2 linked regions of the Homo sapiens genome follow. The protein of the gene in region 2 interacts with the protein of the main gene of each other region in a pairwise test. Each region holds a gene or a part of one and is shown on either strand. Other genes may lie near its edges.

Region 1 (3,662 bases), on a different chromosome or scaffold from region 2:
TCTGCTCCCCAGGCTGCAGTCCAGGCCCTCCCAGGGGCTTAGGCCACAAGCCCGACGGTGTCATCCCCATCCCCCCACAGTGCCTCTCCCTCCCCACCTCTCCTGCCACCACCCAGGCAGGCTTCACAGGCTCTTAACCTTTCTCTTGGGTTTCCAACCCCTGCCTTGTGTTCTGTTTTCTGCACCCAGACAGAGGTCCTCCTAGGCTGTCATATCAATCAGACCTTCCCCGCTCCCACCCCATTCGGGTCACAGCCCGGGTCTCTGCTGGGCTCCAGGCATGCATGGTAAGGGCTGGGCTGCCCCCTCATCCTCTCCCATGTCTCAGACCCCTTAATTCCTCCCCGCACTGCCTAATTGCACTGTGCCCATGTTGCAGGCAACAGCCTTGTTTTATTCCAGAGCCCCCCACCTATGTTCCTAGCACTTGGCCCAAGACCTCTCAGGAGATAAATGGATGACTGAGGACTTAGTAACCCCACTGATCAGATCAGGAAATGCCTCCCTTCCAACCTGGCGCCCCAGGGAGCTGCCATTCCGGCTCTCTGACCCACGGCTGCTCTGCAGGTGGAGCTTGTGCTGTTGACTCCACGACAGACCCCTCCCCAGCCCCAGACCCATCTCTGTCCACTCTCCCTCTGTCCCTTCATACCTCTAGAGGGGGTCATAGACCTAAACTCCTCCCTTGAAATCCCAAAGACCAAAGCCAAAGTATCCTCAGCCCCCAGTTCCCTGGCCAAGTGTGGAACGAATCCACAAAGGCTCATTCTTCCTCCGTCTCCCCATCCACACCATCTCACTCAGCCCCTGACACTCACCTCTGAGTACTCTGCCACATCTCTGTAAATATCCGTGTCTGGCACCTGCCCCAGGACAGAGTAGTGGGGCCTGTGAAGGAGAGAGAGAATGCACGAAGAGGGGGCAGAAAAAGGGGATAACAGAGGGGTCCGAAGGAGCCTGAAGTCCCCAGAGATGTGGGGAAAGCTGCGGGGAGCCCTGTGGTACTCTCTCACTAGCTGGAATGAGGGGACCAACATGGCGGACTCACATCTGTGTCCGGACCACCACGAGCAGCAGGGAGAAGATGACCGCAACCACCAAGCCAAGGTCCAGGTTCAGCAAGATGGTGGCCGTGAAGGTCACCAGCCAGATAAGCTGAGAACAGAGGGCAGCGGTTGGAGGGCGGCGAGGAGCCATGGGGCTGCCCAGTCCCTGCCCTGGGCTCCCAGTGCACTCACCAGATCCGCCCGATTGGCCTTCCAGAGGGAGCGCATGTCGCTGAGCTGCCTCAGCATGCCCTTCAGGTTCACAATGATGATGGCTGCCAGGACCGCCTGGGGTGGGGACAGTGCCACCAGGGGCCATTGAGGGCACCCGATGCTGACAACCCTCCTCACCGAGGCAAAGCCAGACTAAGCCCAAGCACTCAGGCAGTACCCCAGACACAAACCCCCACCCAGCCCCTGACCCTTGTCTCCAAATCTCACCTTGAAGATCTCAGCCTTGAAAAACAGAACCTAACCTTGTGTCCCCACCCCTCGCCTGAACCTAGACTGGCTGATTTGAGAGCCCTGGCCTGGCCAAGACCTGAAACCTGGCTGGGTGGGGGCTCACCTTGGGCAGGTCATGGAAGAGTTCCCCAAGTTTGACAATGATGAGGAGGATGAAAAGGGAAGAGATGGCTCCAGCAACCTGTTCGGGGAGGGAGTGAGCAGGGGAGAGACCTCCTTCCCCAGGCAAAGCAATGTGCATGCCCACACCCATGCCCACACCCAAAGCCCACCTGCGAGTTGCCCCCGGTGCTCTCCTGTACCAGGCTCCGAGACATAGAGCAACTCACGGGGAAGCACTGGAAGATGCCTCCGATAAGGTTACTGAGGCCCAGGGCCACCAGCTCCTGACGGGGGACAGTACGGGTGTGAGAAGACTTCCTAGAAGTGGCTGGTCACTGTTCCACTGTATCTAGGCCTGTGCATCCCCAATCTCCATCCCCACCAAGTGGCCCCCAGAGACTGGATGCTGTCCCACACGTCCTGCTCTCCCACCCTCAGTCCCCCACGTGGCCTCAGCACATCTGCTGTCTCCCTGTGTCCCACCGGTTCCTCCCCCACCCGTTGCTGGCGCCTCCATACACTTGGATGCCTCCTACACATCCCGCATCACCCAGACCTGGTTGCTGTCCACCCGGTAGCCGTGCCTCAGGGCGAAGATCTTCCCCAGTGAGATGGCAATGGCAAACCCAACCACAGCGATGGTGAAGGCGCTGCCCACGAGCTTTGAGAACAGCTGGGTGTTGGGGGCCACTGGGGGCACCAGCCTGTGAGAGGTATCTGTGAGGCCAAAGCAAGGTCCTGTCCTGGCTGCCCAACCCTCCCTGACCTGATGGAGGCCAGAGCTCACCCTGCAGGGATGTTGCCCACGACATCTACCTCAAATCTGTGCTTTAGACCCATGCCATAGGAGATGCCTGTGGCCCCGATGAGCTGTGGGAGAGGACAGAGTCAGGGAGGCAGGTGCTGGCACCATGGTCAGGGGGACACATAAACCACTGTGAGGTGAGGAGGGAGATACTGGGCAAAACCTTCTTCGAGGGTGGGAAAAAGTCACGTAGGGTGAGAGACAGGCAACACCATTTCGGCTATGGGGAGATGCTGTCAGGGGCAGGAAGAAACCAACATAGGGGCTTTCTGCTGTGCCCCCCACAATACCCAAGAACCCTCCCAGCCCCCCTCCAGCTGGCCCTCAAATACAGGAGGCTGCCCACGTGGCAAGGACCCAGCCTGACCTGCCCTTCTCCCCTGCCCTCCACTCCCTGGCCCTCGAACCGTGAGCAGCTCCCCGGGTATCGGCATGGGCAGCTGCTGCTGCAGCTTGTCATTCAACAGCTTCACCACCACGAGCACCACCCCAGCCACAGCTGCAGTGACCACGGTGCCAACCTTGCTCTGGGGCAGCTTCCAGCAGACCTCCAGCACTGTCTGAGGAGAGGCCAGGTCACAGCTAGCACTCAAGGCCATGGGGCACACCTACCCCTCCCTCCCCCTACCCTCACTCACATAGATGAGGGACAGTGGCCCAGAGTGGCTGCTCAGATGGAGGCCAAACACATACTTGAGCTGTGAGACGAAGACCTGCACAGCTGCAGCTGTGGTATAGCCTCGGACAAGAGGTTCTGACAGGTAGGTGACCACGAAGCCGAAGTGGATCAGGCCCAGCCCCACCTGTGGGGCGGCCAGGGGCAGTCAGGAGAGGCAGGGGTCCTGGGGTTGCTAATGAGGAGCGCAGGGCAAGTGGGATGGGAGGGGGATGAGTAGACGGCAAGAGGAGGACGACGATGGTCAGACACTCAGGGGAGTACAGACAGGACAGTGGCGGGAGCAGAAGTGGTGGTGGGGGGCACATACTCCTGACTGTTCCACACCTGGAAGAGGCCAACCAGGACACTGAGTGTGGAGGCCACCTGTACCCGGGCAGCATCTCTGGCTGTCTCATTGATCATGGAGTCGTTCAAGGCCTGCGGGGCCAGGGATTCTGTCACACTGCCCACCATCACAGACATGACAGCAAAGGTCCCTGTAAGGACGGCACGGGGCAGGTCTGAAGAGGAGAGGACACTGCCCTGCCCTGGAGCCCTGGTCTTAAGAGAGAGGCCAGGAGACTTC
Region 2 (3,909 bases):
GCAGGGCAGGAAGGGGAGACAGCATCCCTGAGGACAGCTGCAGTGTGTGGCACAGTGAGCCACCCAGTCCAAGTCCAGCCTCAATAAACACAACGGAGGTGCTGTGTGGCTGGCAGACTATCCCCTCCCCCAGGCTCTCATCCTTGAGGCAACACCCCCCATCCTGGGTTAGCTGAGAGGCGGCTTCGTCCAGGAAGAACACCGGGTGCTGGACCAGCTCAGCTGGCAACATGCTCTGGGAATGTGAGCAAATCACCTGAGGTCTCTGGACCTCGGTCCCCTGGGTATAAAACCACCGGCTTGGACAAGCTGGTCCTGCAGATGCTCAACTTCCAGGAATCCAGCAGAAACCGACATGGAGAGACTTGGGTTGTCAGGGACCTCTGGGCTGGGGTCACTCAATCCCCAGCTACCCTCCTCAGTCACATCTGGCCCATCCTCCAGACACAGCTGATGTCCCTCCCATGCCTTCCTCCTCTGGGAAGCCTCTGTGACTCAACCACCTGTACTTCTTTTTCCCCGTTTCCCCCCTGGAGGAGAGAAGCAGCACCGGTATGTGTTAAGGAAGAACAAACAGACCAGCCAGACGATCAGGGTTCAAACCCCAGCTCTGCCACTTGCTGCTGAGTGGGCAAGTCCCTTCTCCCCTTTTTCCTAAGGGTGTGAGCTCATTGCATCCCTTGCCGAAGCTGCAAACCCATCCACTCTTTCTAGGATGTTCTCACAACCCCACTTTCCCCCCTGCCCTCTGGAAAGGTGGATCAAGTGGAGAAACAGTAAGCTACCTGCGAGGCTCTGCTGAAGCAACAGGCCACTAAGCTTTTATGCCTGGCGATGGAGGCCGATGAAAGAGGCCGGATCTGAACCCGGGGGCCCGCATGGCCCGTGAGCCGGGCAGGGAGGAGGGTGGCCCCGGCCCGTCTTGAACTGTTTGGAGGCATCTCAGGCCTTGCCCACCTCTGGGAGGCAGCCCAGCCTCGGGGTCTGCCCTGCAGATTCCATCGGCTCAAACCATGATTCCTCTCATTAACAGCAAGTTACTGAGCCTCCCTGTCCCTCAGCTGCTCTAGCGTAAGCAGGGGCTGTGGCTCTGAAACGCGCGGATGCGAGGCGTGTAGAAAAACGCCCGGGACGTCACATGCCGAGCAGCAACCGCCAGCCGCGATCGCCAGCATCGCCGTGCACCGGGGCCCAGCACGGGGCTGAGGGCAGGGGCGGCCCGTGCGCACCGGCTCCAGCCCCCCGCGGCTCCCGGAGGAAGTTTGTGGCCCCCGCGCGGCGCTCTCGCCCGCGCCCCACGTTCCCGGAGTCCCCGCCGCTCCACTCGACTCCGCAGCCGCTTCCCGACTGCAGTCTCAACCCGGTCTCGGGGGGCGGCGGCGCGCGCCGGGGGTCTCCGCGCGCCCGCGGGCAGCCCGGGTCCCGGCCGAGGGGGGCAGCGGGCCGGGGCGGCGCGGGGGCGGGCCTGGCGGGCGGCGCAGAGGGCCGCGTGGGGCCGAACCATGCACTCACCTCCGCGCGATCCGGTAGAGCAACACGCCGGCCGCGGCGCACGCCGTGACCCCCAGGCCGCCGGCCAGGCCGGCCGTGGGGCAGCGGGCCAGCAGCGCGCTCACTCCCTCCATGGCTCTCCGCGTGGAAGGACGGCAGGCCGGCAGGGGGGTAGGCGGGTAGGCGGGTAGGCGGGTAGGCGGGCAGGCGGGCAGGCGGGCAGGCGGGCAGGAGGCGGTGACGCCGGGGGCGCGGGCCGCAGGCGGGACGCGGGGCGGCGACGCGCGCCTCCTCGCGCCGTGACCTTCGCCGCTTTGTAGCGGGCGCGGGCCCGCCCCCTGACTCGGCGCGCTCCCGTCGCGCAGCCAATCGGGACGAGGGGTGAGCCCGGGTGGGCGGGGCGGCGGCGGAAGCGACAGAGCCGGCCGGGGAGCGCCCCCGCGCGGCCGGAGGTGGAAGGCGGCGCGGGGAGGGCGGGGCACGGAGCCCTGTAGGAAAGCCCCGCCTTCTGCCTCCCGCGCCAGCCGCCAGGCCCGGAGGTCTGGCTGCAGACAGTCCACCGAGCTTCTGCTAAGGGGAGCATCTCCAGAGTACGCAACTGCTTGTAATTAGTCTTTTTCCCCCTCGCTAATCCTGTCTAGTCAAACCCAGCCTATGCGCCCAGTGCTGTTTAGCAGCTCCTTGAGCCGCTCTAATGGTTGAAAAACTAGCTTTTTAGAAACACGATCATCCACGGATAGGGACATGGTTGAATAAATCATAGGACAGCCATAGTTCGGAACATAATGCAACCATTAGAAAGAATGCCAGATCCAGGCAGGGCGCGGTGGCTCACGCCTGTAATCCCAGCACTTTGAGAGGCCGAGGCGGGCGGATCACGAGGTCAGGAGATCGAGACCATCCTGGCTAACACGGTGAAACCCCCTCTCTACTAAAAATACAAAAAATTAGCCGGGCGTGGTGGCGGGCGCCTGTAGTCCCAGCTACTCGGGAGGCTGAGGCAGGAGAATGGCGTGAACCCGGGAGGCGAAGCTTGCAGTGAGCCGAGATCGCGCCACTGCACTCCAGCCTGGGCGACAAAAGCGAGACTCCTTCTCAAAAAAGAAAGGAAAGGCAAGGAAAGAGAGAGAGAGAGAAAGAAGGAAGGAAGGAAGAAAGGAAAGAAGGAAGGAAAGAAGGAAAGAAAGAAAGGAAGAAAAGAAAAGAAAGCCAGATCTGGAGTTATTGGCATAGATGGATGATACATTGTTTTTAAAAAGCAACATGCAGGCAGGGCGCGGTGGCTCACACCTGTAATTCCAGCACTTTGGGAGGCCGAGGCGGGCGGATCACCTGAGGTCAGAAGTTCAAGACCAGCCTGGGCAACATGGTGAAACCCCATCTCTACTGAAAATACAAAAATTAGCCGGGCGTGGTGGTGCACACCTGTAATCCCAGCTACTCGGGAAGCTGAGGCACAAGAATCGCTTGAACCTGGGAGGCGGAGGTTGCAACGAGTCAAGATTGTGCCGCTGCATTCCAGCCTGGTGACAGGAGACTCCTTCTGAAAAAACAAAAACGACAACAAAAAAGCAACATGCAGGCCGGGCACATGGTGGCTCACGCCTGTAATTCCAGCATTTTGGGAGGCCGAGGCAGGCGGATCACAAGGTCAGGAGCTGGAGACCATCCTGACCAACATGGTGAAACCTGGTCTCCACTAAAAATACAAAAATTAGCTGGGTGTGGTGGTGGGCGCCTGTAGTCCCAGCTACATGGGAGGCTAAGGCAGGAGAATTGCTTGAACCCAGGAGGCGGAGGTTGCAGCGAGCTGAGGTTGCGTCACTGCACTCCAGCCTGGCAACAGAGTGAGACTCCATCTCAAAAAAAAAAAAAAAAAGAAAAAGAAAAAGAAAAAGCAACATGCAGATTGATTTTTAAATAATATCCAAAGCTTAAATAAAGCCTTATGTGCTTGTGGGAAGTGGAGAATAGTTAACACTGAACTGCAAACTGATTACCTGGTGGTGGGAGGAGATTCAAGGGGAAGAGTCACTGTGTTTCATTATTGATTTCAGCTAAATTACTAGTTTTAAAAAAGTAAACAGAAAATATTTGTATCTAATTACACACTATGTTCCAGTGTTCTGATCACTTTTTTTTTTTTGAGGTTAACATTGTAAACTCTTTGTGGGTAGTGATGGATTGAGGGCAAATGTTTTTTTGCTCCTGCAGCCAGTTCCTCTGTCCACACCGGAATCATGCACATTCACTGGGGGGAAGGGGGACTGGAAAGTGAAGCAGACAGGAAACCTGGAGGTTCACTTGGGTCTGGACCTCCTCTTTCTTGTGAGTATCCCAGCAAAAGCCTTTCCATGCAGTCTTGATGCTTTCACCAGCCATGAGCAAACAAAATAATCATTTAAGGTGTATCTTCCC

What was found.
Region 1: the proteins of TMEM201 (region 2) and SLC26A6 interact in binary tests that used the Homo sapiens proteins (3 or more experiments, as listed by UniProt).

Annotation. Positions count from the first base shown.
Region 1 is NC_000003.12:48,628,824-48,632,485, forward strand, and holds part of SLC26A6 (solute carrier family 26 member 6), read right to left. Parts: intron 3,574-3,662; coding exon 3,422-3,573; intron 3,270-3,421; coding exon of another isoform or gene 3,222-3,269; coding exon 3,057-3,221; intron 2,979-3,056; coding exon 2,826-2,978; intron 2,484-2,825; coding exon 2,401-2,483; intron 2,318-2,400; coding exon 2,170-2,317; intron 1,898-2,169; coding exon 1,784-1,897; intron 1,693-1,783; coding exon 1,615-1,692; intron 1,335-1,614; coding exon 1,239-1,334; intron 1,156-1,238; coding exon 1,049-1,155; intron 889-1,048; coding exon 819-888; intron 1-818. UniProt on the Homo sapiens protein: Apical membrane anion-exchanger with wide epithelial distribution that plays a role as a component of the pH buffering system for maintaining acid-base homeostasis.
Region 2 is NC_000001.11:9,586,647-9,590,555, reverse strand, and holds the start of TMEM201 (transmembrane protein 201), read right to left. Parts: upstream 1,646-3,909; 5' UTR 1,626-1,645; coding exon 1,513-1,625; intron 1,201-1,512; exon of another isoform or gene 958-1,200; intron 950-957; exon of another isoform or gene 786-949; intron 1-785. UniProt on the Homo sapiens protein: Critical regulator of angiogenesis and endothelial cell (EC) migration. Promotes the migration of endothelial cells, which is essential for angiogenesis.